Homo sapiens: one gene and its partners. The protein of the gene in region 4 purifies or fractionates together with the protein of the main gene of each other region. This does not show direct contact. Each region holds a gene or a part of one and is shown on either strand. Other genes may lie near its edges.

What was found.
Region 1: the proteins of TMEFF1 (region 4) and FGF2 purify together in Homo sapiens (affinity purification with mass spectrometry, with the first as the bait; 3 studies listed by BioGRID). This does not show direct contact.
Region 2: the proteins of TMEFF1 (region 4) and ATP2C1 purify together in Homo sapiens (affinity purification with mass spectrometry, with the first as the bait; 3 studies listed by BioGRID). This does not show direct contact.
Region 3: the proteins of TMEFF1 (region 4) and STEAP3 purify together in Homo sapiens (affinity purification with mass spectrometry, with the first as the bait; 3 studies listed by BioGRID). This does not show direct contact.

Annotation. Positions count from the first base shown.
Region 1 is NC_000004.12:122,871,813-122,878,844, forward strand, and holds part of FGF2 (fibroblast growth factor 2 isoform 18 kDa), read left to right. Parts: intron 1-4,508; coding exon 4,509-4,612; intron 4,613-7,032. UniProt on the Homo sapiens protein: Acts as a ligand for FGFR1, FGFR2, FGFR3 and FGFR4. Also acts as an integrin ligand which is required for FGF2 signaling. Binds to integrin ITGAV:ITGB3.
Region 2 is NC_000003.12:130,889,159-130,897,085, reverse strand, and holds the start of ATP2C1 (calcium-transporting ATPase type 2C member 1), read right to left. Parts: upstream 3,003-7,927; 5' UTR 2,749-3,002; intron 2,537-2,748; exon of another isoform or gene 2,497-2,536; 5' UTR 2,317-2,496; coding exon 2,311-2,316; intron 1-2,310. UniProt on the Homo sapiens protein: ATP-driven pump that supplies the Golgi apparatus with Ca(2+) and Mn(2+) ions, both essential cofactors for processing and trafficking of newly synthesized proteins in the secretory pathway.
Region 3 is NC_000002.12:119,219,389-119,226,835, forward strand, and holds the start of STEAP3 (metalloreductase STEAP3), read left to right. Parts: upstream 1-4,445; 5' UTR 4,446-4,500; intron 4,501-7,447.
Region 4 is NC_000009.12:100,574,117-100,578,136, reverse strand, and holds the end of TMEFF1 (tomoregulin-1 precursor), read right to left. Parts: intron 1,622-4,020; coding exon 1,537-1,621; 3' UTR 1,203-1,536; coding exon of another isoform or gene 1,182-1,202; 3' UTR 501-1,181; downstream 1-500. Other genes in the region: MSANTD3-TMEFF1 fusion protein, read right to left, coding at 1,537-1,621.

The DNA of each region.
Region 1 (7,032 bases), on a different chromosome or scaffold from region 4:
CAACAACAGCATCAACAACAACAAAAAATCCCCCACAAAAACCCCATTCAAGGGTCAGCAGCCTCAAAGACTGAAAATAGACAAACTCACAAAGATGAGAAAGAAATCAACGAAAAAATGATGAAAACCCAAAAGGCCAAAGTGCCTCTTCTCCTCCAAATGATCGCAATGTCTCTCCATCAAGGGTGCAGAACTGTATGGAGGATCAGATGGACGAATTGACGGAAGCAGGCTTCAGAAGATGGGTAATAAAAAACTACGCTGAGCTAAAAGGAGCATGTTCTAAACCAATGCAAAGACGCTAAGAACCTTTATGAAAGGTTAGAGGAATTGCTAACTAGAATAACCAGTTTAGAGAGGAACATAAATGACCTGATGGAGCTGAAAAACACAGCATGAGAACTTCGTGAAGCATACACAAGTATCAACACCCAAATCAACCAAGTAGAAGAAAGGATATCAGAATTTGAAGACCACCTTGCTGAAATAAGGCATGCAGACAAGACTAGAGAAGAAAGAATGTGAAGGAATGAAGAAAGCCTCCAAGAAATATGGGACTTCATAAAAAGACCGAACCTACTATCGATTGGAGTACCAGAAGAAGACAGGGAGAACAGAAACAAGCTGGAAAACACACTTCAGGATATTATCCAGGAGAACTTCCCCAACTTAGCAAGACAGGCCAACATGCAAATTCAGGAAATACAGAGAACACCACCAAGATACTCCACAAGAAGATCAACCCCAAGACACATAATCGTCAGATTCTCCAAGGTTGAAATGAAGGAAAAACTGTTAAGGGCAGCCAGAGAGAAAGGCCAGGTCACCTACAAAGGGAAGCCCATCGGACTAACAGCAGACCTCTCAGCAGAAACTCTATAAGCCAGAAGAGATTGGGGGCCAATATTCAACATTGTTACAGAAAAAAATTTTCAACCCAGAATTTCATATCCAGCCACACTAACCTTCAAAAGCGAAGGAGAAATAAAATCCTTTCCAGACAAGCAGATGCTGAGGGATTTTGTCACCACCAGGCCTGCCTTACCGGAGCTCCTGAAAGGAGCACTCAATATGGAAAGGAAAAACCGGTACCAGTCACTGCAAAAAACACACCAAAATATAAAGACCAATGACACTATGAAGAAACTGCATCAGCTAGTGTGCAAAATAACCAAATAGCAGCATGACGACAGAATCAAATTCACACATTTTGCTATTTTTCTAATTATCCTATCTGTCCTTTACCTTCTGTCTTTCCCTTTCTGCCTTCTTGGGTTAATTGAGTAGTTTTAAAATATTTCATTTTGCCCTTATAACTCAGCTGCCAAATGTTTGGGTTGGTGGGGAGCTAACCTTGCTCTTGAACTGTACTCCTGGCTTTCCACATCTTGGAAGATCTCTCTTTATCCTGCTGGTCATTGGCTTTGCATTTGGTGAAGGCTCAGTGCTTCTCAGAAGGATCACTTTCAGCCCTTTGACCTGCTCCCAGCCTTCAGTGGACTGCTGCCTTGCATTCTGCAAAGGCCCAGTGTACTTGAAGAGGATCTCTTAGCCCTTCTGTTCTGTTCCTAGCCTTTGGTGTGTGGTACTTGTGCACTGGGTGGAAGCTCTATGGGAAAGAACTGGCAGGTGGATATGGAGTTGCTCTTTGATCAGGGCTCTTCAGAATTCTAATTCCTCACATCAGCAGCTAATAAAAGTTTCTTAAAAATTCAGCTGGTTTCTTCGTGGTCCCATTTTTGGCAAGTTTATTCCTCCTTCTATCAGAGATGAAGCAGCTATGCATCTCTTTTTTGGGAAGAGGTCATCTGTATATCGAATTTATTTAGGAGATGAAGCAGCTATGCATCTCTATTTTGGGAAGAGATCATCTGTATATTGAATTTAGTTTATTTAGGTTTTTTATGCATCTCAGCTCAGATAGTTTTTATAGAAAATCTATGATTTTGTGACTTCCTCAACTTCTTGTTGTAGACTCTGGTTATTTTTAAAACTTGTAATTTAAAAATTATATGCCAATGGAAACACTCTTCAAGAATCTTACATGTAATGCTTATTGCTTAGTGGTTTAATGAATGACAACAATCCCTGAGTGTGGGAATAGTTGAGGTCTACAAAAGGTTAATGAGTAAATGAATTATGTTTACTTTGGGTATTGAGTCACTGGTACTGATCTGGCCATACACGAATATCCCTAATCACCCTCATGACTAGTAATACACATTTATAAGATGGTGGACCAGAGCTGGGCTAGCGTTGATTGATAAGGGACAGAAAGAAAGTATAGCGATTGATTATTCAGCCTTGCCTCATGGGCATTTGTACATCCTTATGAGTTAAAGTGAGATGCAAATGCATTCTTCATTAAAATGGCTTATCTGAATCATTTTAGAGCTGTATGCAATAATTTGCTTATACTCATTAAGATAAGTTTGGTTATGTTGATTAAAAACAAAGCTTATTTTCTGCATTTTCCAATAATATTGTAAAAAATACTTCATACCCTTCATTGTTTGGGTTTCATGTCTTCATTACATTCCTTTTACTTCGTATTATCTTTTAAGATTTTGTAGAAGAATTTCACTTGGGTAACTGTAGGCTTAAATGATGCAATGCTTTCTGGAATCCAGGGGTGACTGACACACAGAGGTGACTCAGACATGAAATGTTCAACAAAATTCTAAGATTGTCTTTTTTTTAAATTGTAAATTCTTAAACATTCATAAAAGTAGTGAGATTAGAATAATGAAATCCTGTGCTTCTAATGACTGTTAACACAAGTGAATCTTATTTATCCTATCCACTTTATTAAAAATTTAGTTATCTATTATTTAAAATAATATATTAGCTTATTTTAAAGCTAATCCCAGATATTATGTTTCATTTTGCATGTCTGTTGCTGTCTTGGTAGGAAAAATTTTAAAACATAAATTACTATGACATAATGATATCTAACAAAGTTAATTATTTAAGAAACTTTCAAAAGTTGCTTTTTCATGCCGTTTCCCTAGCTACCTATAAACACCTGGAAATTATATTTATTTTATATTTCTAATGTTATTCAAATGATAATATGCTGATTTCTAAAATTGCATTTTTTTCTGTTGCTCTCAAGAATATCCTAAACATATCCATAGGATGTGGGATGACCTATGAAAATAGTCTGGACAAACATTTATCTTGTTTATCTTATGATAAGCAGAGTTCTGAGAAGTTTGGTAATAAAGAGTTAACTTGGTTTAACTAAGATTTTCCTAAATTATTTGACACCAGAACCTATTTTTTATTTAACATCTGTTAGCAAAAATATATTTGGGGGAATATTGTTCTAGGCAGGAGAATGCTGCCTCTGAATAGCAAAATAATCTTTACTTCATTTTTATTTCAATTAATTAGGTAATTATTTGTCCATATTACATTATCATCATAATTAAGTAATTTTTTTTTGTTTTTCTGTAATCTGCTTAATATTGATAATGTGGTGTGACAAGTCATCTTTCTCAGGATCTTATTTTATGAAAATCTTTCATCACACTTATTTTATGAAAATCATTTGCTGTGTAAGCAAATTAAGTATAAGCATTTTGTGTTTCCACTAGATAGATATTTGCACACAAAAAAATAGACATCAAAATCCCATATAGAAAGCTAAATGCATCTATAGTTCATTGAAGAGGAAGCTAGAAATAAGATGTGTAGAAGTCAAAGAAATAGGGCCGGGCGCGGTGGCTCATGCCTGTAATCCCAGCACTTTGGGAGGCCAAGGCAGGTGGGTCACGAGGTCAGGAGATCGAGACCATCTGGCTAACATGGTGAAACCGCGTCTCTACTAAAAATACAAAAAATTAGCTGGGCGTGGTGGTGGGCATCTGTAGTCCCAGCTACTTGGGAGACTGAGGCAGGAGAATGGTGTGAACCTGGGAGGCAGAGGTTGCAGTGAGCCGTGATTGTGCCACTGCACTCCAGCCTGGGTGACAGAGAGAGACTCCGTCTCAAAAAGTCAAGGAAATACAGCTCAAATTATAACAGTGAATAACTAGATTTTGTTTCATTTGTGAAGAATTGGCAAATAACTTTTAAATAGTTTCAACATAGGCAGTAGCATGGGAATTCTCCTACACTTTTATGTACCCTTAAAATATGTTCACTTTAAAAAATGTAAATAGTTAACAGGGGCGATTGAAAGCTAACTGCCCAACAAAGGAAACAATTCTCCGTGTGTCCCCCTTCTCTGCTCACCCTGTGACACCTTCTCTGCTCACCCTGTGACACAGGAGCGACAAGGAACTCACAAGGCACTGGTGCCCTAGTAGTTCTGCATCTCATCCTCTCTCATACAGTTTAGTTGACATCTGCTCCCTGTCACTCACCCATACCCCCAACCTCACCAATCCTCCAAAGTGGATTAGTTGTTGCTTAGGTGTGTTTTGTCTTTATATTGCGTAAATATTGTGAAGAAGGCTCTTTCCTCTGTGGTGCTACAAAGATAATTTTTTTTCCCGTTACAGTCAAGCTACAACTTCAAGCAGAAGAGAGAGGAGTTGTGTCTATCAAAGGAGTGTGTGCTAACCGTTACCTGGCTATGAAGGAAGATGGAAGATTACTGGCTTCTGTAAGCATACTTTCTGTTTTCACACGTTTTTTGTTAGCTTTTATTGCTGTTAATTTACCAGCATTGTTGTTTATCAAATCTTTATAAAGGATTTTACGTGTATCATCGTCATAGTCACCCTGTAAAATAGGGAGTATTTTCTTTATTTCACAGATGCAAAAACTGATGTGCTGAGGGAGTAAGTAAAGTAAGAAAACACAGCTCATATAAAGTAGAGACTGGATTGGGCTGGAGGCATTCCTGACCTCTAAGTCACTGCTTTTACTCTGCAAAACTATTAAGCTATAATTTAAAAAAAATTTTCTTCTATTATGCAGTTGTTTGAAGATCATTGGGAATAAATGTATACAATTTTGATTATTAGTTTTTAAGTTTCTTCTTTAGAATGTGACGTACAAAACACTAGCAATGTAGAACACTAGTTGAGAATGTAAGCTTTCTGCCTGGTACAGATGCCGACTCTGCCACTTATGAGCTCTGTGTTCTTGGGCAAATGATTCTGAGTTAGTTCTCTTACCTGTAAAATAGAAACAATGATACTATCTCATTGGGATTTTATCAGAATTTAATTAGATACTACACATCAAGTGCCCAAATCAGCATCTGACACGTAATAGATCCTGAAAATTGTTACTTCTTCCTCACATTACTTCTCATTTACATATATGTCAGGAGAGGGACTTTTTTTTTTCTTTTTTTTTTTGAGATGGAGTCTCACTCCACTGCGCAGACTGGAGTGCAGTGGCGTAATCTCGGGTCACTGTACCCTCTGCCTTCTGGGTTCAAGCAATTCTCCTGCCTCAGCCTCCCGAGTAGCTGGGATTACAGGAATGCACCACCATGCCTGGTTAATTTTTTTGTATTTTTTAGTAGAGACAGGGTTTCGCCATGTTGGCTGGGCTGGTCCTGAACTTCTGACCTCAGGTGATCCGCCTGCCTTGGCCTCCCAAAGTGCTGGGATTATAGGCGTGAGCCACCGTGCCTGGCTGTAGAGAGGAACTTTTCTTTTTTACATGTTATCACAGCTTATCAGGGGTCCTAGTTCCTGGCTAGTATTCTTTCCACTAGTACAGGCTCCCTGTCAACTTCACCATTATTATTAGAAACGGGACTGCATATCTGTTGAACATATGATGTATAAAGAATGGTGCAGGAAAATAAATATAAAAGACAGATCTCATTCCTGTCTCCGTGAGGGAGTAGATAGGACATGTATGTAAATGTTTGTGCGTGTGTGTGTTTCACAGCTCTTACACCAATGCCACTGGCCAGTTATGACATCTCTATATAACCTCCCCACAGAAAGGATCTAACAGTACTAAGAAATTGTGGTATTTTGAGCTATACAAATAGTTTTTGAAATTTCTTCTGAATGAAGACCTTTGGATTTCTAAAAGCACCAAAACAAGGCTTACAGAGAAAAAGGGTATCTAAACTATCCCAATTTCAGACTGACTGTATGACAAAGATATACTTACATTGATATTACCAGTTTATGTAATTTTTGCAGGATAAATCACAAGTTTGAGTGTAGTGGCTCTCAATTTTGGGGGGAGGTAGTTGAATAAATTTTAGAATTCTCTTTAAGAATAGCCAATACTTATTAAGTGAAAGTGTGCCAGATGCTATGGTAGGCATTGAGCTTATAAAATTGAATATCAAATTGTCTCTGCCCTTAATGAGTGACAATCCAGGGGAGGCAGAAGTGTAAATAAGTATTTATAATAATGTATAAGGGTTTTGATATGCTACTTCTATATTTTGCATACATGCATAGTAATATAGGAAAGGATAAGAAGTATTATGATATAGGAAGCAATATAGAAAATGAGGTAATTACATTTTTCTAGAATTGGGGGAGATGACCTATAAGTAGAATTTTAGACGTTGTAAAGGAAGGAGTTCAGCAGGCAGTCATGGGGCAGAAGAAATTGAGATGAAGGTATAGATAACTCTAGGACATAGGACATGAAAAGGTGTGGATAAAAAATCTACTTGATGTATCTCTAGAATTACAAGTAATTAACTAATGCTGGAATGTATAGTGCAATGGAGTAACTAGGTGGAAGGGAAGGGAGAGAAGGCTGGGGAGGTAGATAGACTGTCTGCTGAATCTGTTGAAGGGCTTTATACACCATGCTGACTATAAGCAGTGGAGAGCCATGAAGAGTTTTAAGAAGAGATCTAATTAGATTTAAATTTGAGAAAGATCATCCTGGCAGAAGTGTAGAGAATGGACTTGAGGGGGCCAAGACTGGTGGAGAGAGATCAGTTAGAAGGCCACTGTAATAGTCCAAGCAAGTCATGTTCTGATCCTGGCAATAACAGTAGGTCAGAGAGGAGTGAGGAAAGTGCTAGCACTTGTGATTGATTAGATTTAGGACTGAAGATGAAAGAAAAGTCAAAGATGGCTTTTAGGT
Region 2 (7,927 bases), on a different chromosome or scaffold from region 4:
GTATCAAACATTCAGCTAGGCAATTTATAATTAACATTTACCGAGCACTTACTATGTGCCAGATACTGTTTGAATGTTTACAACAACCTCATAAGGTAGGTTCTATCATTATCTTTATTTTATGAAGAAACGGAAGCACAGAAAACTTTAATATGCACAAAGCCAAATGGTAAGCGACGAATCCAGCATTCAAATCAGTCTGCATGGTTCCACCACAACTCAAGCTCTTAAACGTTATCATTCCTACCTCACAAGAGAATTTATACAGGGTTTCTCATTTAATCCTCTCAATTCTGTGAGTTAAAGATTATCAATCCCAATTTATAGATGAAGAAATACAGGCTCAGAAAGGTGACGTAATTTACTTAAAATCACACAGCTTTAAGTGGTTCAAGACAAGTTAGTCAAGACTTGAATCCATTTTTGTTTCACACCTCCAAATTGTTAATACTACACTATATCAAAGAAGGATGAAAACTACAAAAAGGCAAGTGAACAATAAAAAGGCACAGGTATCAATCTATGTAGTTTAATATGGTCAGTCACTTTTGAAAATTTCTAGGCTATATACAGGCTCTTCTTCAAACTGTTTATATATAAAAAAAAATGTGACGATAGGGAGAAACTGACAAAAATGGTCTCTTGATGGTCAAGAATAACGGGACAGAAAACCCCACACGTTTTTAAGAACTGTATAATCTTTTACTATGAAACCACAAAATTCATATTTGGCCACAAAATACAGAGACAGACACAAGTAGGCACCATTCTCCTATCTCACAACCACCCCCTCCCACCTCAGTAGATAATGAGAATCGGCTTTATTACTCATGCTCTTCCTCCTGAGAGATCAAGAAACAAAAGCAACATGAAAGAATCCACCTACTTTAGGCTACCCTCTTAAATCTGGTACCATTCTGAAAACAAGCTCATAAACATACATTAAATGTTAGAAGTTATTTAAGATGTTTCTACCAAGAAACAAGTATATGAATGCATTTAACATTCTTTGTCTCATGTGCAGAATGGATTTGCCTTTCTTAAATCAATAAACTTAAAAGAGAGGAAAAAGGCTCAGAAAAGTGACTTTCCTTATCACCAAAAACATCACTGCTTTCAAATGTTTCTCAAGACCCAATTAGACAGTATAACTCCTCTGCAGTTATACACTTTAGTATTTCAGAAAATGTCTTCCGCCAATTATCCATCCAGAGTAAAATTTGTCAATATAATCATGCCTCTCATCATATTCCCTACATAGCCCAGAGGTCTCAGAGAGCAAAACACATTACTGCATCTATAAGAAACACCCATTTCAAAATTACTAGTCCTAGTCAGACAATCAAGCTTACATTCTCAACAATGGAAAAACAAATTAGAAGCAGCCAGCAAGACTGCAGCTCCTTTATACCAGACACATATTTTTTAAAACAAATTATACCAGAGGAAAAAACTGTCATTTGTTAAGTATCTTTTATAGTATTTTGCAGCCCGGTTAAAGGCAGAAGAAAAAAAAATGATCACGCACAAGTCAGAAGTCAGTCCAAAGAATAAGTGTTGTTTCAGGAGGGGGAAAAAAAATCACTTATTCACAGTTGTTCAACAATTTTAAAAATAATCAGTGCTGTGTAGGAAAAGCATTAAATATTTTAACGAGGCCAAAGGGATCATGTAACATGTGAATGACGATCTAATGTGTCCAAAGTGTACAGTGAACAAACAGGTTCCGCTGTCAGCCTCCTAAATGATGTTTTGAAATAGGGTGGAACTTTAAGAAAAGCACTCATCTCATAACATTTCATTAAATTCACTGGGTTTTTTTTGTGAATTGAAAAATAATGAGTTTTTTCCCCAATGCTAGACATAATAAAACATGGCTTGCTTTCTTATAAATGAATCCTGCCACACACCACATCGAGGCTTGAAACGCCAATATACAGAGATGCAGCCCCATCCCCTTGTCCCCCATTTCCACTTCCCCTCGAGTAATTCCTTTCAAATAGCTATTTAAACATGCACAGACGCTATCTGAAATGAAAACTTCCCTCTCATTCCCTAAGCTGAAGAGAGCAGGAATTCCTCAAGAAAGCTGAATCAAGCTCAGTCACCCACAGAACCTCAATCTCTCAAATGCCCCATGTTACCAAAATAAAAGCTGGATACCCTAAGTAAGCAAATCCTTGGACACTTCACATACACAGTAAATAAATAAGCTCACGAAAATAAAAAGGTGGAAAAACAAAGACAACTTAAAAGCAAACCACCACACCCTCAACTCCGCGTTGCAACCGGTCGGCCAGGGGCCTTTACCTTCATTTTCCATCGAAACTGCACTCGGGTTGATGGCTACAAAGTCTTTAGTGTCAGCCACGGCCACACTGGGAATAGAGAGGAGAGGAGGAGGACAAGGAAGAGAAGCCCCCGGAATCCCAGGCTGTCACCCCCGCTCCCGGCCACGCGTCCCACGGCTGCTCCCACCACCCCTAGCAGCAGCATCTGCAAGAGAAACCAGGAGAAGCGGCGCTGACGAGAGGCTGAGGAAGGAGTTCCCCGCCCAGCCACTATCTCGGGAGCCCCCCTCCCCAAGATCCCGCACCCGCCCCGTCGTGTGCCCGCAACGTCCCCAGCTCACGCCAGCGGGGCGGCGCCCTAGAGATGCCCCCCCATCCAGGGGATACCCGAACCTCCCCTTCCTTCAGAACCTGGAAGTTTCTAGAAATGGGGGCAGGAGGTAATACTGGTACCCACCCAAAGCCCCGGACAGCCCTCCTCCAGGCTGCGGGGTCTCAGCCGCGGGGCTCGCGGGGGCGCCCCGCGCGCCTCGGGAGAAGAGGAGCTGCTCGCGGGGCAGCGGTGCGAGGCGGGAGCCTGCTCCCGGCGTGAGAAGAAGCGAGCGGGAGGGAGGAAGGGAGGGAGAGAGGGCGGGCGGGGAGGGGAGAGAAGAGGAGGTGAGGGGACCCGTCACGGTCCGCCGGGCCGGCTCCGCGAGGCCGTGCTGGTCTGCTCCCGCCTCCGACTCCTGCGCTCCGCCCCTCCCCGCCGCCGGCCGCCCAGTCGCGCCCCGCACTCCTGGGCCAGCCGCGAACCCAGCTTTGTCACTATTACTTCCGCTGAGAGAGGTGCGCGCAGGCGCATTCGTGTTCACGGGCTGGGAAGGCGGAAGTGAAGTGAAGGCCGAGACTTCGGCCCGGAATGGACAATGTTTGGGTTTGGATCCGTCCGGTAGGAGGTCGCTCGGGGTTGGTGGCCCGCCTTGTTCTTGCTGGCGCCTCCCTTACCCCAGGGACGGTGTCCGCCCGTTTATATGCACCCCCTGAACGCGAGGGTCGGAGATTCGCCCACGCCCCGTGTCGGCCACGCATTCCCGTGGGGCGGCCGCGGGGTCGGCCCAAGCTGAGAGTCATGGCCGCTGTCCCCGAGGCGTTTAAGCGCTCTCTACAAAGTCTGTAGGGGAAGCTGCTCCCGTCGGGGTGGCAGTCACAATCTCAGCAGGCAACGTTGAGGCCCACGGAAGGAAGGGGCGAGGTGTCCATGCTCCTGCCAGGGACTGGAGCACCGTGAGCAGCCTCCCGAGTCTCGCACTCTCACTTGCAAAACCCTGCACTGACTGCTTGGTTCTTGGGGGAGCCGGTAATCGCGGGGCGACTTCCCAAAATTCTTTAAGGGGTGTGCTTAGTTACCATGTGTAATGAGAGAGCAAGGTTCAGCCTCAGAGAGCTCCAGGGAGAGCTAATCTTTTTCATTCGTTTGTGGTATATGGAACTGGGGAGAGGCTGGAACAGCAATTAGAAACCAGTCGTACAGCTGTCGAAGCCAATGAACGAGCACTTCTTTTAGCAGCTGTACCTTTGTCCAGTGTCAATGCCTTTTCACACGTAAACATTTCACTTGCTCGGCATCTTACCCAGACCCCTAATAAGTGCTTTTTAATGAACGATTGGTTTTAATAAACCGTGGTGAGCCAGACATATAATGTTGAACAGAAGTCCTCTCACACCCATAACCACTAGAGGGCAGGGCTTCACCTACTGAGTTGGTGATCATCCTACAGAGAACTCAAAAGAAAATTTCCGTATATGCTAGATGTGTTTTTCTCCATCAACACTTAGACACTTTACAAATTTGCTTTTTATCTCAGGTCCTGTAACATATCGCAGTGTGCTCTCTAACCACACGTTCAACATCAGAATTAACGGACGGGGTTGCCTGTGTTTCTATATTTGTTCCCAAGTAAGTGGTACTAGACTAGGATTGAAAATTCTGGACAGCTTTCTAGATTTACCTTTCTTTTAAGAAATATTGAACTTTTATTCAGCGAGGTCACTTTTAAAGATGAACCCATAAAAATCACTATCAAGTAGATTTCTAGTCTTAACGAGTTAACTATGATCCACCTCTGGCATGCATGGTCAGTGATTTTTGTCTGCACAATGACGGAGCCAAATTAACGGACGGGGTTGCCTGTGCTTCTATATTTGTTCCCAAGTAAGTGGTACTAGACTAGGATCGAAAATTCTGGACGGTTTTTAGATTTACCTTTCTTTTAAGAAATATTGAACTTTTATTCAGCGAGGTCACTTTTAAAGATGAACCCATAAAAATATCAAGTAGATTTCTAGTCTTAGGAGTTACTATTTATGATCCACCTCTGGCATGCATGGTCAGTGATTTTTGTCTACACAATGACATAGCCTGTGATTTGTACAATGATTGTGATCTCTCGTAATCAATTTGTAACAGTTATTACTGTACATATTCGACCTTGAAACAGCATTATATTAAAAACAAAAGCACCTAAGGTAGGAAATTACACAATATAAATACTTTGATATTAACATATGCATTTACAAAATAGAGGGTAACTGTACAGAATTTGGTATTGGGTCACTTTAGCTGAAACATTTTTCTAAAGCAACTTTTCAGAACTATCTGTTGTATTAATATACTGCAATACTCTAGCATTAACACTGAATCTATAACTCCTCCAAAAGATTTATAGCTCCATGGTTTATTCCTAAAATGACTTAAACTGAAATTTTACTTTTGGTCCCCTAAATTATGAAAATCATTGTTCCTATTACTAAGCCAAAAAAGAAACTGGTAAGATCAAGATCAACTTTACCAAGAAGAATTGACCAATTAGTCATTTTATATAAAAAACTTAAGCATCTGGAAATTTTGGTGTCTGAGGGGGTTCTGGAACCGATCCCCTGTGGACAATGAGGGATGACTATATACATATATATGTCATACACACACATATGTATATGTATAGACAAACATATACACATATATATGTATATTCATACACCCACATATACATACACACTAGCCTTCTTTCAAAAGATTTTTGTAAGAATCTCATAAAGTAAGTGAACACAGGTTGCAAATTATAAGCACTATAGAAGTATAAGATTATTATAGAGAGAATCAAGGAAATCCCTGGAGTGTTAGCTAGCTACAATGGGATTGATGGCAATGAAACATATTATTTCCAAGTTTCAGCTTATTGCTTCCATAGAAATCAAAGCTCTAAAAATTCTTTCTACTCTCCTTTTGTCCTGAATATTTAACCTACAAAATTAAATGCATCTGATGCAAAAAGTGGTCACGTGCAAGAAAGGGAAATTTGTCAGGCTTTTCCGCTTGGGGGAAATATTACAAATGGGAAAGATTGAAGAAGAATGGTCATGACATTCTAATTTTCTTTATACTGTGCTTTATTCCACAAAGGGTGTGCGGTATCTTGTTTTTAATATCAAATTTGATAGCTGCATTTTTATAAACCTGGATGGTACAAGAATATGTGGTTCTTTAGGGATTTAAAAATTAAAACTTGGAAAAAATTATTTTAAAATCTTTCCTCAATTAATTAATGTCTTCTTTTAAAGGCTGTTTTAATGTTGTTTAAAGTACCAGAGGTTAATAGTTAAGAAATTTCACCTAGCTGCTAGAAAAGAAATTGTAATTTTATTTTAAGTTGAACATTTTATTTATTTACTTACTAACTTAAGAGACAGAGTCTCTGTCGCTGAGGCTGGAGTGCAATGATGCCATCATAGCACACTGCAGTCTTGAACTCCTAGGCTCAAGAGATCCTCTTGCCTCGGCCTACCAATGTGCTTGGGATTAGAGGCATGAACCACCATGCCTGGCAAAGTTGGACACGTTAAAAACATATAAAGATGCATCACTTTATTTTTATAAGCTAACCTACTCCAACAGAACAACAGAAGTATTTTTCTTCTTATAAGATAAAGGACATGCTAAATGTCAAGTTTAGAAAACTATAGTTTTATTGCCAAGAGTGTTGTACGAAATCAGTTCCTAACAAACATCTACCAGAATTGCTATAAATCTGCCTAGTTCCATGTTTTGGCAGTGCTGGAAGATTAAAAGTTGGAAGCAAGAATAAAAATTGAAGGACTCATATGAGCTACTTGTGTTTGGTTGGTTTTAATAGCACCCAGATCCAGATCCCCAAGTACTCTACAAATATTTTATCACTCACAAAATTCCATAGCCTCTTTCACACTTGCTAGCATTTTAAACATGAAATATTTGATGAAACTGAGATGAAATGAGAGAACTTATACTCTTAATTTTTATTGTTAAAGAAGTTTATTTCAAGTATGACATAGTCTCTCCATTCATTGGCTCAGATTCTGAGCCAGTGGTAATATTTGGGATCTTATATACTACCAGTCTTCTGGATTAGACATGAGTGTCGATGGGATGCATGTGAAAATAAGAAAGAGGTAAGAGCAAAGTGAGTGTGAGTCCCATGACCCAAGAGTACCATGACCAATGAACTTCATCATTTCCATGGAAAACAGACATACAATATTCCAAATTATATAAACTACAGGATTTGTTTTGAGATACAAAGGTATCCATTTAAATGATAATATTCCACCTAGTTTCCAAACTAGCATAATTCACCTCTGGCCCCAAAACATTTGACAGCAGTAAATATGTAATAAAGACCTATTAAATAAATGGATAGCCTGAAAAATGTTTATCATAAATATTTTTTGTTGAATGAATAACAATCTACTTGTTTCCTATGATCAAACTAAAATCCAAGCTCCTACTTTCCTGTAAAACCAAGAGGACTTAAGGGATTTTTAAGAAGTTTAAGGGTTTCTGGTGCATCTCACACCTGTAATCCCAACATTTTGGGAGGCTGAGGCAGGAAAATTGTGTGAGCCCAGGAGTTCAAGACCAGGCTTGACCACATAGTGAGATCCTGTCTTTACAGAAAATAAAAGCATTAGCTGGGTGCAGTGGCACACACCTGTGGTCCCTGATACTCAGGCAGCTGGGGTGGGAAGATTGCTTAAGCCCAGGAGGTCAAAGCTGCAGTGAGCTGTAATCATGCCACTGCACTCCAGCCTGGGGGACAGAGCAAGAAACTGTCTCAAAAAAAAAAAAAAAAAAAAAAAAAGTTTAAAGAATAAACCTACATCTCCAAAAACCACAAAGGGGTTAACTAGGACAACATTATCTGAATGGGAATAAGTCCTAATTGTTGTAAGAAATGCTCGATATTGAGCACTGCCCAGAGCAGATAAAATTGCACACCCAGATTTTGAGCCCAGGTAACCATTTGAAATTAAAAGATAACAGTGTTGAGGTGCTTGTTTCCATGCATTTGAGAAATTTTAGCTGAGCCTGTGCTTTTGATTTTGATGGCATGAATATTAATGCCTGACAAAAAGCATTGTACACTAGGTCCTCGAATAAGGTCATTTTGTTCAACATCATTTCATTAAATGATGAGAAAAAAACATCAATTACTGGTAGGGCCACTGTATTGAGTTTGCACATTCTCCCTGTGTCTACATGGGTTTTCTCCAGGTATTCTGGTTTCCTCTCATATCCCAAAGTTGTGCATGTTAGGTTAATTGGCGTGTCTAAATTGTCC
Region 3 (7,447 bases), on a different chromosome or scaffold from region 4:
CACAAGGACTTTTTAGCAAGCAAAAAGTATGATATTGTCATGCACCCTGGTGAGGGGAAGTGTCATCCAGTTCTAGGTTTCTGTGAATCTACCTTGATGCAGGTGTTCAGGGAGTAGTGAGTTTCCTCAGTTGTAATGTAGACCAGCGCTTCTCAAACTTAAACACGTATACAACCTCCTAGGGGGTCTTGTTAAAATGCCATTCTAATTTGGGAGCTTTGGGGTGGCCTGACACTCTGCCATTCTAAAACCCTCCCAGGCCATCATGATCACCACCTTCCGAGCAGCAAGGGGTTAAAACCCAGGCATCTCCCATGATCTAGTAGTGAGTGCCTTTCTAATCGCCCCCAGCTGAAAGGCAATGCAATGTTATCATAGACGGGCAAGAAGAATCTCTTCCTTGGCTCTGTAAATGCTTCCGGGATGTGCTGGGTCAGCCTCCCTCCATTCTGGTTGGCGATCTTGGTCTAGTCACAAGCCAAGACCGTTGATCATACACAAAAGTTTAAGTACCTACTACGCGCCAGGAAGCTCCCTCAGAAAGATGGTTGGTCCTGCTCCCCCACCCACCCTCCACCCTGGCATCTTTTATCCACTCTTCCTTCAGCAACTGCCTTTATCAATGCTCCCTTGAGCCAAAATAAACAAATAAAAAGCAACTTCCTTTGGAAGCTACTCCATACTCTTGCGCTGGCCACAGTTACATCTCCCTGCAGATACACAGATTCTCATGACACAGAGCTCAGACAGTGCTTCCTCTCTGGAGGGCTCATGTTTCGAGAGAAGACTGGAAGGAGGACAACCTTATGCTCCAGTAGAATTCCAAATTCTGGGGTGCAGGGACATTTCGTGTGTGTATGTGGAGGGGGGGGTGTCCTAATGCCCTGTAAGCCACACTTTATAATGCTGTACAATATTGGGTCACCATCATGGGCCATGGAAAGCAGAATCTGTGAGGTTCAGTCCCAGGCTCCAGCACCCCTTTGTCAGCTGGCCTCCCCGCTCAGTGCCCTCTCCCACTACCTGCCCTGCCTCAGCTCTGACTGCTGCTGATGTGCCTCCACCCATCAGGTCATTGTGATGGCAAAGACAATGCCTCCATTTGCCCTGAATGCAGCCTTACATAGGAAAGAGCTTCCTGTGCTCCAGAACTTGGAGGAGTCCTGCAGCACCTGGTCTAGTGGGGAGAGCATCAGTGGGGAGCGGCACCTTTCCTGCAGCCACGGCCCACTGGGCAGGACCAGATCCAAGTGGCCTGGCTTCTGGCTAGGGTGTCAGAGTACATTGGGGCATACAGCTTCCCGTGGCCATCTCGTTTTCATGGAGGATTTATTTTGTGAAGTGGACCTGCTCTGTCCCATCCTATAAATGCTGGATTAATCCAAGAAGCTGAGGGTGAGCAACATCCCTCTCCTTCCTGATCAAATAAGAAATAAATCTAGATTTTCTCCTGGATGCTATTCTCTTCTTAGCCAAACAGCTAACCTTGTCTTCAAGGAAAAAGGGCAATCCCAGGGGCTCTGTAAATTGAATATTCAGCAACTCCAGGGGCAGACATCCCTAAGTGCATAAGTGGAGCACCCCTCTGAATCAGCATCACACCAGCTGGGGGCATAAAAAGGAGAGCAGAGTAGGCAGGAGCTGTGGGGACATTTCTGAGATGCTAAAAGAGGCAAGGAAGTGTGAGGACGGGTGTGCATTCATGCAACAGGTATTTACTGAGCACCTACTATGAGCCAGGCAGTGCTCTATCCATTAGAGATACGGAATTGAATAAAACATAAAAATCCCTGCCCAGGAGGAGCTCACATTTCTATGGGAGAAGACAGTTACTGAAAAACAGTCCAAAAAACTCTATTTTATAGTGTGTTCAGAGGTAATACAGGCTATGGGGAAAAAAAGAAAGCAAGCAGGTACATGGATGAGGAATGGGGGCGATCAGCGTGGGCCTCACAGAAATGATGACCTTTCAGCCAAGACTTGGAGGAGGTAGGGAGGGTACCTGGGGATGCCTAGGGTCCAGGCAAGGGGAACGGCAGGGGTCAGGATCCTGTCAGATTCATCTGAGGTGGGACTGAATGTGAGCAGAGAGAGGGAGACAGAGGATGAGGGCAGAGAGAAGGCCAATCACACTGGGCCACGGCTATTGCAAGGACTTTACTTTTGCTGGGGGAGGGGGTAGAGTTTTGAGCAGAGGAGAAATGCGATCTGGCAAACATCTTGCAAGGATGGCTCTGACTGTTCTATCCTTGGCAGAGGACACCAGAGTCTGGCCCATAGAAGGTGCTCAACAAAGCTCAGCACATTGCACTCCTCCCTGGAGTAGGAAAGGGCTCGTCTGCTTTGGGAAATTTGGCTCTCAAGCTTCTGGAAACACCTGACCCCATGCCAGGTGAGACAAGCTCACACTCAAGGCCCCCTTAGTCCAACGGTCAGTGGACAGAACAAGCACCAAAGGTCAACGGCGTGGGCGGTGGCCTCTCTGCCAAAGTGTGTGGGCCCAAGTAGGGTATTCACCTCCCTCCCTGTCTGTGAGAAATTTCAGACCCCTCTACTTTTTCCAGCAGGAGTTCATGTTCCTTTTAAGATAATCCTCTATAGACCTCTGGCAGCCCAGCCTTCAAAATGTCTCCCCCTGTCTCTCTTACTCATGGAGAGCCCCGCTTCCCCGCCTCAAAAAAAAGTCTTCCTCTCTCTTACTCATGCATGGAGAGCCCCACAAAAAGACACTGGTTCCCAGGGATTCTTCCAAAGATGCTGGAAGACCTCTCAGTGTTTGCATTTCCCAAGCTCGGTTTCCTTGTGCTGTCCTTGGGCATTAAAGGAAGGCTATTCAGCCATCCCCATCAGCAGGAGCAGGCATCAAAAGAACAGCTACTGCAGGGGGAGCATATTAGGGGCACCAGAGGGGGCTAGGAACTGGGTCTTGTCTTCTCAAAGTTTACAACCCACTGCAGGGGCCACTCACCAGCCCTGGCACCCTAAGGGCAGGAACCTCCATTGGGCACGTGTGTCTCCAGCACTGGGAGCACTGTCTGGCACCTGGGGCACTGTGAGTGTTGAATGGATAAAGGACCTGTAAGAATTGCCATAAGAGGTGTTGCCCTGGGGCAAGGTGGGACAGGAAAGTTCTTGCAAGAGAAGAGAGGCTCTGGCCTTGGGCCCTGGCTGAGCAGAGAGCTGGGAGGTGGGTATTCGGGTAGGAGGAAAGCTGTGGAGGGGGAAAGCAAACTGCCTGCGGGGGTGGGGGGGTTCTCGGCGGGAGTTGGGGGTGGAGGGAAAGGCGCTTTACAGCAGCACTCCCTCCACAGGGAGACCAGAGCTCTGCCTCTTCCTCCCCACCGTGCCCTTTGGGGTCCAGTTGTGGGGCCTTCCTTGAGGCCCAGCTCCTGCCTCTGGCCTCCGGAGGCTTATCTCCCCAACAGAGGCTGGCTCCCCAGAAAACAGGATTCTTAGACTTCCTAAAAATAACCTGAAGCTCCTTATCAGAGGCTAATAGTGTATGTCTCCCAGGAATACTCTAGAAAGAGTACCAGGGGTCAGGAACCCCCACTCAGCCTCCACGAATCTGAGCGGAAAAGCCCGGGTCTCCTCACCTGTAAAGAAAATAACTGCAGCCGGCAAATGTGACCACAGGTGAGAAGGGGCTTCGGACCAGGGCGCACACCTCTAGAGAGGTGCCCACAGACAGCCTCCCCTTACTTACGCCCTGCTTCGCTGCAGTGCTGTGAAGCCATCGGCATTGGAAGTGCGGAGGGCAGCGGGCAGTGCCCCAGGGGGAAGGGGGGACGGGTAGGGTTTCAGAGCCCAGAAGGCCTAGACAGGGAGGCAGCTCCGGGAGAAAGGTACCCGCCATCCCACCGGTCTTGGAACCTGAGGACTGCTGGGAAGGGTCAAAAGTCTGCCCTAAGGGTGGACAAGGGACAGAGATTGGGGGGGGACCACAAAGGCCTGGGCGCAACCTTGTTGAGAGGGAAGGGATCCGGACCCAATCTGGAGCCCTGGTCTCTTCCCACCTGCAACCGTGGCTGCCACTTGGCCTCGGTTATAAAATGGACAAGGATTCGAGGTGCTCCTCAGGTTAAGAGAGGGGGGCCTAGAGGTCACCCTGGCCTCGGTGCCCTCCGTGGCCGGGTTAAGAGGAGGTCCCGGAGTTCTGCTCACTTCAGCCGTGTGCCGGGCACTGCAAATCAGGAAGTGTTGGCGCCGGCTGGCGACCTCCCGCCTGGGGCCAGGGGAGGAGGGTGGTTGGACGCTGCCACCGCTGCCGGGGCTGTGCAGGGCTGGGCGGGGAGCGAGGACCCGGCGGCTCCTGATTGCGGCCCCGGGGGAGGTGGCCGAGCCGGATAAGCTGCGGCGGGCTGGAGGGCGGCCACCTCCCCTGCAGGTCCGGCCCTCCCGGGCGGGTGGGGCGCGGGGGAGGAGGAGCCTCGGGCCGAGCCACCGCCTTCGCCGCGGACCTTCAGCTGCCGCGGTCGCTCCGAGCGGCGGGCCGCAGAGGTGAGTGTACCCTCCCCCGGTCTCCGCGGGGCTGCGTGCTGCGCCCGGTCCCCGAGACGCCCGCCCGGTTGCACCCTGCGCCGTCGCTGCGCGGACCTCGGGTGCCGCCACACGTCTGGAGGCGACTTCTGTCCCCTGGGACCGAGCCACGTGCGCCCGGCGGCAGAGAAACCGGGTTCCGGGGCCCCCACCCCGTGTGCCTTCCTTCCCTAGGCGTGGAAGCCGCTTGCGCCGCGCAGGTTAGGCAGGGCCGGCGGCGACAGTGGCGGGGAGCAGGCTCCGGAGCCCCGGGTGCAGATGTGGGCGCCCCTCCGGATGACCCCGGCTGAGTCCACAGGTCCCGTGTGCCCCACGGCTGGGGCTCTGGCCAGCGGTCCCAAAGGAGGGCTGGTAGCTGTGGGCGGGGATCTTCCAGGCTCTTCCTCGCCAGACCTCCCAGTCCCTTCGCAGCCGAACAGGGCAGGGACAGGGGCAGGTGCAGGGGCTGGGCAGGGGCGCCCGACCTTGGTCCCCAGGAGGAGGCTGGCCTCACCAGTGCCCGCCTCTGCCCGCGGAGCCCTTGCCTGGCAAAGTTCCCCCTCCTGCCCGGCAAAGCTCCCCCTCCTGCCCACTTCCCCGAAATTTGGGGACAGGCTGCCCGGAGAGGTGTGGTTGGAACTTTGGTCACTCTGGGTAAATGAAGGGGAGGGTGTGCCCAGATAATATGCGGTTTGGGGACCAGAAAGCCGGATCCGTGGGGAGAAGCAGGAAGGTCCCGCTGGAGCCCTGGCAGAGGGCACAGAGAGGCCTCCCAAATATCCAGGGCCACCTCAGAGATGGGCTCCAGAAGTGGGGATTCTGGAAATGCCCCCAGGGAGGTATTTCTGTCCATCAGAGTGCAGCCATAATATAATTAACAGCAGATATTCCCATTTATGTGTGCCAGGCATCTTGCTAAGGGCTTTGAGCACAATATCCCAGTTAATCCTCACAACAGGAAGGCACCATTATCTCTTGTTAAAAATGGGGAAACAGCCTCAGAGAGTCCACGTATTTTGCAAGGATACACAGCTAGGAAGTTGCAGAAGTAGAATTTGAACCCAGAGTTATCTGACTTGGAGCCCAGAGGAACCTACCACTGGGGCGAAACAGGCTGTGTCCTCACGGGGATTCTGGCAGCCCCAAGAATACAGTGCTGAGAGCCAGAAGGTCCACAAAACCAAAGGGTCTCACCTGGGTGTGTCCTCTCAGTCACCTGCAAGGCTTGTTAAAAATATAGATCCCCAAGTCCCATCCGAAGCTGACTGAATCAGCTAGGGGCACCTGGAGGACCCAGACTATGTCTTACTCATCTCTGTCCCTGGTGGCCTGCAGAGGGGCTGGCAAGGAGCAGGTGCTTAGTGAATGTCTAATGGGTAAGTGGGCGGGGTGGGGTAGATGGTGTCACTAGTGTCCTGAAGGGGGCTTAAATGGAGCAGGTGGCCTCAGCCAGGCAATCCGGCAGCAGGTATGGAAGTGACACAGTCTAATGCTGGCCTCAGAGCCAGCAGGGAGCTCAGGCTGGGCCACTTGTCCACCTGGGGGTTGAACAGCCTGCCCCAGGTTTGCTGAGGTCCCCAGGACCAGGCCAGGTCAAGCTGGGATCACACATGTTCCCTCTCCAGCCTAGAGATGTCAAACAGGTAGATTCCTCTCCCATTCATATCTCCTATCCTTGGCCCACAGCCCTTCCCTTCTTGGACTTATCAGAGACCAAGGTGCTGGGCAGGGCTTCAGGTGGTTAAAAAGTGAAAGTTCTTGAGTGAAGTCCAAAGGCGCACACCTGAGAGCTGAGTGGGCAAAAGGTCGCTGGCTGAGTGCTGGGGATAGTCTGGCTTTGGAGTCAGATGGACGAGTCCAAATCTCAGCTCCTTACCCCGTAACATGAAGCCCTCAGCTCTCTGAACCTCTGTTTATTTGCAAAACCTTGCCAAGGGCTTCAAACAGGATATCCTCATAAAACAAGTATGCCTATTTGGGGGACTAAGTGTGTGAAGTGCTGAGTTTTAGGAGTGCAGTAAATATCGGATCCCTCCTTCTTCACCTCAGGTTTGCGAGTTAACCAGTGAGGGGCCTTCCAGGCCTAGTGCTCTTGTAGACCGAACCACTAGCTTTCCTAGAGAAGGCAACTGAGGCCTAGAGAGTGGCCTCCAGGTTCCGTGCTCTGTGGCAGAGCTGGCCTTGGCTCCAAGTCCCAGGGTTCCCAGCTCAGTCTCAGCTGATGCCTCCCAGCCTGGCGGTCTACGCTGCCTGCTACATTCCCTGTCCAGCTACAAATGAACAACTGAGAGGGCTGGGGTGAGATTCAGGCAGGCTGGGGCAAGGGAAGGAAGCAGGTCATTTGGGGAGTCGGGCTCTCTGGTCTTCCAGCTGAGGCTGGATCCACTCTTTCCTGTCCACCCACGGTGCGTAGTGGCCAGGTCTTCCTGAGCTGAGCAGGTTGAGCACTATGAAACTGCTTTCTAGCATCTAGACCAGGGAGTTGCCTCTTGATTTAAAATGAGGATGTTTACCAGTTTAAGTAGTTATTAAAACCTAAGGCCAAGTTGGTGCCTTTCCTCCCTCTAGGAGTTGGAAGGGTGTGTGCTTTTTTCTGCTCCTACCCCACCCCTGCCAAACCATCCCAATTTGAGAGGCTGTGGAGATTACAGAACTTGGAGAGGAGAGGGGCAGGGATCGGGGTTGGAGACTAGATGGTTTTCAAACATTGGGCTACAGAAGTCCCTCTTCCTCCCATCTGTCTCCTGCAGCTGGGTCCACCCACCTGTCCAACACAGCCTCCCACAGGTCCCGGGCCTCTTTGTGCTCCAACCGTCACATCCTTGGCATGCCACACACCCTCACCATCCTGCCTGAAATGCCAGTCCTCATCACTGACATTCAGCCTCCCATGTGCCAGCATCCGGGCCAAACACTTTATCTACAGGAG
Region 4 (4,020 bases):
ATTTCTCAGCGTAAGATGTCCTAACCACAATCAATTCTGGCACTTGGAGCAAAAAGTCAGCTTGATAACAGGCAACAGGGTTGTTTAAAGAGTTGGAAACCCCACCCCTAGAGAACGGTCAAGTATTTATAACTACAAATACCCATATGTGACTGTTCTGCAATCTGAACCCTTGCAAAGCACCGGGGACTGTTCCAAACATGCTTGCTGACTGACTAAGGGACTCAAATAAGACTGTGTGGGTAGAAGAGTAAAGCTTTTTAAAAAAGTTCACTAAAGCCACCATGTAACTAATATTAAACCTAGAAGCCAAATGATCAAAAAAGCAAACTCCAAATGTTGGGTAAAGCTTTTGCCTTTAGATAATTTCAATCAGTATTTGTAACAGTAAAGGGGAATTCTGAACCGAAATCTGCTTTTTCTACTAATTTCACATATTAAATATACTGAAACACCAATATCAAAAAATTTGGTAAATAAACACACCAAAACAGAGGCCATATAGTGAAAACATTATATTATAACATGCTTTTCCAAACAAAATATTAAAATTAATAATTTTTAACATATTCTTTAAATTCTACATGCATACTTTTGAATATCTAAACTACATGTTAAACAGCTGAATACATTCTACTCACACTTCAGATCTTTAAACACCAACAATCTATGAATATTAATCTATTACTACAGGACAAATTTGGATATACGTCTTGGATAAATTTTAAGCTCACTTTAAGAGCACCAATCATTAACAATCATTTTTGTATTTTATTCACAAACACTGATACGATTTGTTTATTTATGTTAAAACAAACATTTTCTTTAAAAATGAATGTGTATTAAAGTAGTTTAACTGGTAGAATAGGCTTTATTCCAATCTGTTTGTTAAACAGCCTATTTTCACAATATCTATATCTACTTTTCATTGATCTGTTCCATCATTACTAACATATTTGTTCAAATTATTAGGACTATTTTTTCAAAGGGAGGAATAATCAAATTCCCCAGTCCATATATCTTATAAATATTTTACACCTAATACACACAGCTTTACAGTTCATGCGATAGGCAGTGTCTAAAAAATCAGTTACTAAATCTCAAAAACATTTAAATATCTATTTAAACACAGTGTCTTCTAGATTTTTTTTGTAAGAAAAGTAATCTGTAAACATCTTTACCTTTAGTTCATGCTTGGTCATTTGCTGTGGTCATTGTGGAAGAAGTGGATATGACTTTATAACCATTTGTGAAGTAGTCCATCTTTGCAAAAATATTACATTCCATGGGTAAAGAACAAGTCTTAGAATTACCATGTGGTACAAATTTGTGAAAGCAATTTCTGTATTTAAAAACATAAAACAAAGACTACTAAACAGTCCAAAACTGTCGTAGCTGAATATTCTAAATACGAGCCAACAGTACTACACTAAAAATGTCCAAAAATAAGGCCTCTGAAATAAATATTTCCATTCTTTAAAAAAAGACATAATAAATGTACATCACATGGTCAGTGTACATATAAAAGTCATCAGTTTAAACCATTCTGGATGACGTATCTGAAGTAAAATGACCTAGGTTTTGCTTCTGTCGACGTCCTCTATTGTTTTTGGGGCATTTTCTGTTGCATTAAAAAAAGAAAGAGAGAAAAATATTGTTTTGATGATTTTGTTCAGGATATTTCAAATGTTTCCAAAGTAATACACATTTTGCACATAAAGCCACATTGCAAGCAATTACATGAAAGGGAAATGAGATGGTATCTGTTGCAAGACAAGATGAAGATGAACACAATTCAGACTGCTACCTCCTCTACAAACCTGGAAGTTGAGAGGATTAGATATGTAATATAGGTACTGGCACAAGCAAAACTCATTACCAGTGTCTATGCTACTATGTATGCATCCCTGACAGATATCCCACCCTTCCTCCAGCCTAGAAACTCCCTAGTCACAGTGACTGATAACATGAAACCCCTGACAGGAGAAAGGACTCTGGCCTATGTACTTTCCCTGTGCATTATGAGAAGACAGCTCTAAAATGACAAGAAGAGCTTAGATGAAGGGAGAAATCAGGAAGAAGTGTGCTTATTAACCTCAGCTATGAATACATAGGAATGTCTACTGATTTTAGACAATGACTCAAAAGAAGCTGTCCACACCCTCCTGGGGCAAACCACAGAAGCCCATAAGGAACTGCCACACTGAGGATAAGGGACATTCTTTAACTCTGCTCTCATTTTACCACGTTTCTCAACAGCAGTACAAATCTCACTGGGTTGGAACTGCTCTTGTGCCTGCACACTAGATTGCAAACACAAGATGCTGTGCTATGCAATGTGGAGTAAGGGGGCTAAGACGAATTCTGGGCTCTGCTAATAACTAACTGTGCAACCTCAATTCTCCTATATGTAAAAAATAAATTAGGAGTTGGACTAGCTTCCAAAATCTCTGCCAGCAAGAAATTTACAACCTAATGGAAAGAAAGTCTTATAACAATGAGTACTCCTCATTTCGTTCGATTTCAAAGAGTACAGCTTTGCCTTGACTAAAAGTGTTGACAATACTTCCATTTTGTATATGGTTTTACCTCACTAATCCTCATTTTAAAAGTGTGAGGTAGACAGAGTTGGAATCATCTCCATTTCATAAATGAGAAAACTAGCTGACAGATCAAGCAACCCTCTTGTACTGTCACTAACTCACCATGACCTTGGAAAAATTCCAATTTCCTAGTGCCATGGTTTTTAAATCCATAAAATCAGGGCGTTTAGTTAAGGTGATGTTCAAGGTTCCTGACAATCTGTCATTCTATGAGTCTGAAAATATGAAAGGCGATTCCAAGAAGAAGAAAAAAAGAAAAATTGACTCATGCAGTCTTGATAAACAGGTCAGTGGGAACATCCTTTTAAAGAAGATTCCTCCCATGTGACAGCCGCCACGGTATATGTCAACAGCTGTCTCATAATGGACTGTGTGGGAGAGATACTTAAAAACTCAATGGAAATAAATCCAAGTACATAAATGTTCTAAATCCAAGATAGCAAGACATTCTAGGGGAGGAAATACCATAATAAAAAGACAGGCCTCCAGGAGAAATCTGTGATAAATTCAATGAGATGACTCTTCAATCGTAGAGACAGTGGGCAGTAAAGACACTGTGACATAGTTAGAAATACACTGTGATGTCTAAGTGGCTGTGAGGGCAACAAGGAGGGATCTGGAGTATAAACTAGAGGGTACCTACTTCAAAACTGCCTGCCAGGTAATTTTAATTGAGTAGTTGAGCATTATAGCACTGAAAGAGTTGGGTAAAAGACTGTTGTAAGGGGGCTTTCCTAGCTCTAGGACCTTAGACCAAGGTACTTCTTATCTCAGGGCTTCAGTTTCCCAACTTCTCTAAATGAAGGGGTTGAACTCAGAATTGTTTCTCATTGACTCTGACATCCTTTGATCCTCTTAAAAATGGCACTATCTGGCTGGGCACAATCCCAGCACTTTGCGAGACCGAGGCAGGTGGATCACTTGAGCCTAGGAGTTGAAGACCAGCCTCGGCAACATGGCCAAACCCAGTCTCTACAAAAAAAAAAATACAAAAATTAGCAAGGCATGGTGGCGCATGCCTGTAGTCTCAGCTACTCGGGAGGTTGAGATAAGCCCAGGAGGTGGAGGTTGCAATGATCCAAGATCATGCCACTGCACTCCAGCCTGAATGACAGAGTGAGACCCTGTCTCAAATAAAGGCACTATCTCCAGGCCTCAAACATCTCCCCTTACTTTACCTTAATTTTCCTTCTGCCTTCCAAATCATTCATTACCTCACTCCTATTTAACTCTAATAATGACTTAAATGGTCTTCCCCCTACCTCATATGTTCACTACTCCAATGAATTTTTCAGATGACTCATTAATACTCTGAAAAATATGGTTTATACCAAGTCCTTCCCCTGCTCAAAAACCCTAAACTGCTACAAAATCAAGTTTGAACCCTGCTCCCATGCAATGGTCATACTGGGCAAAC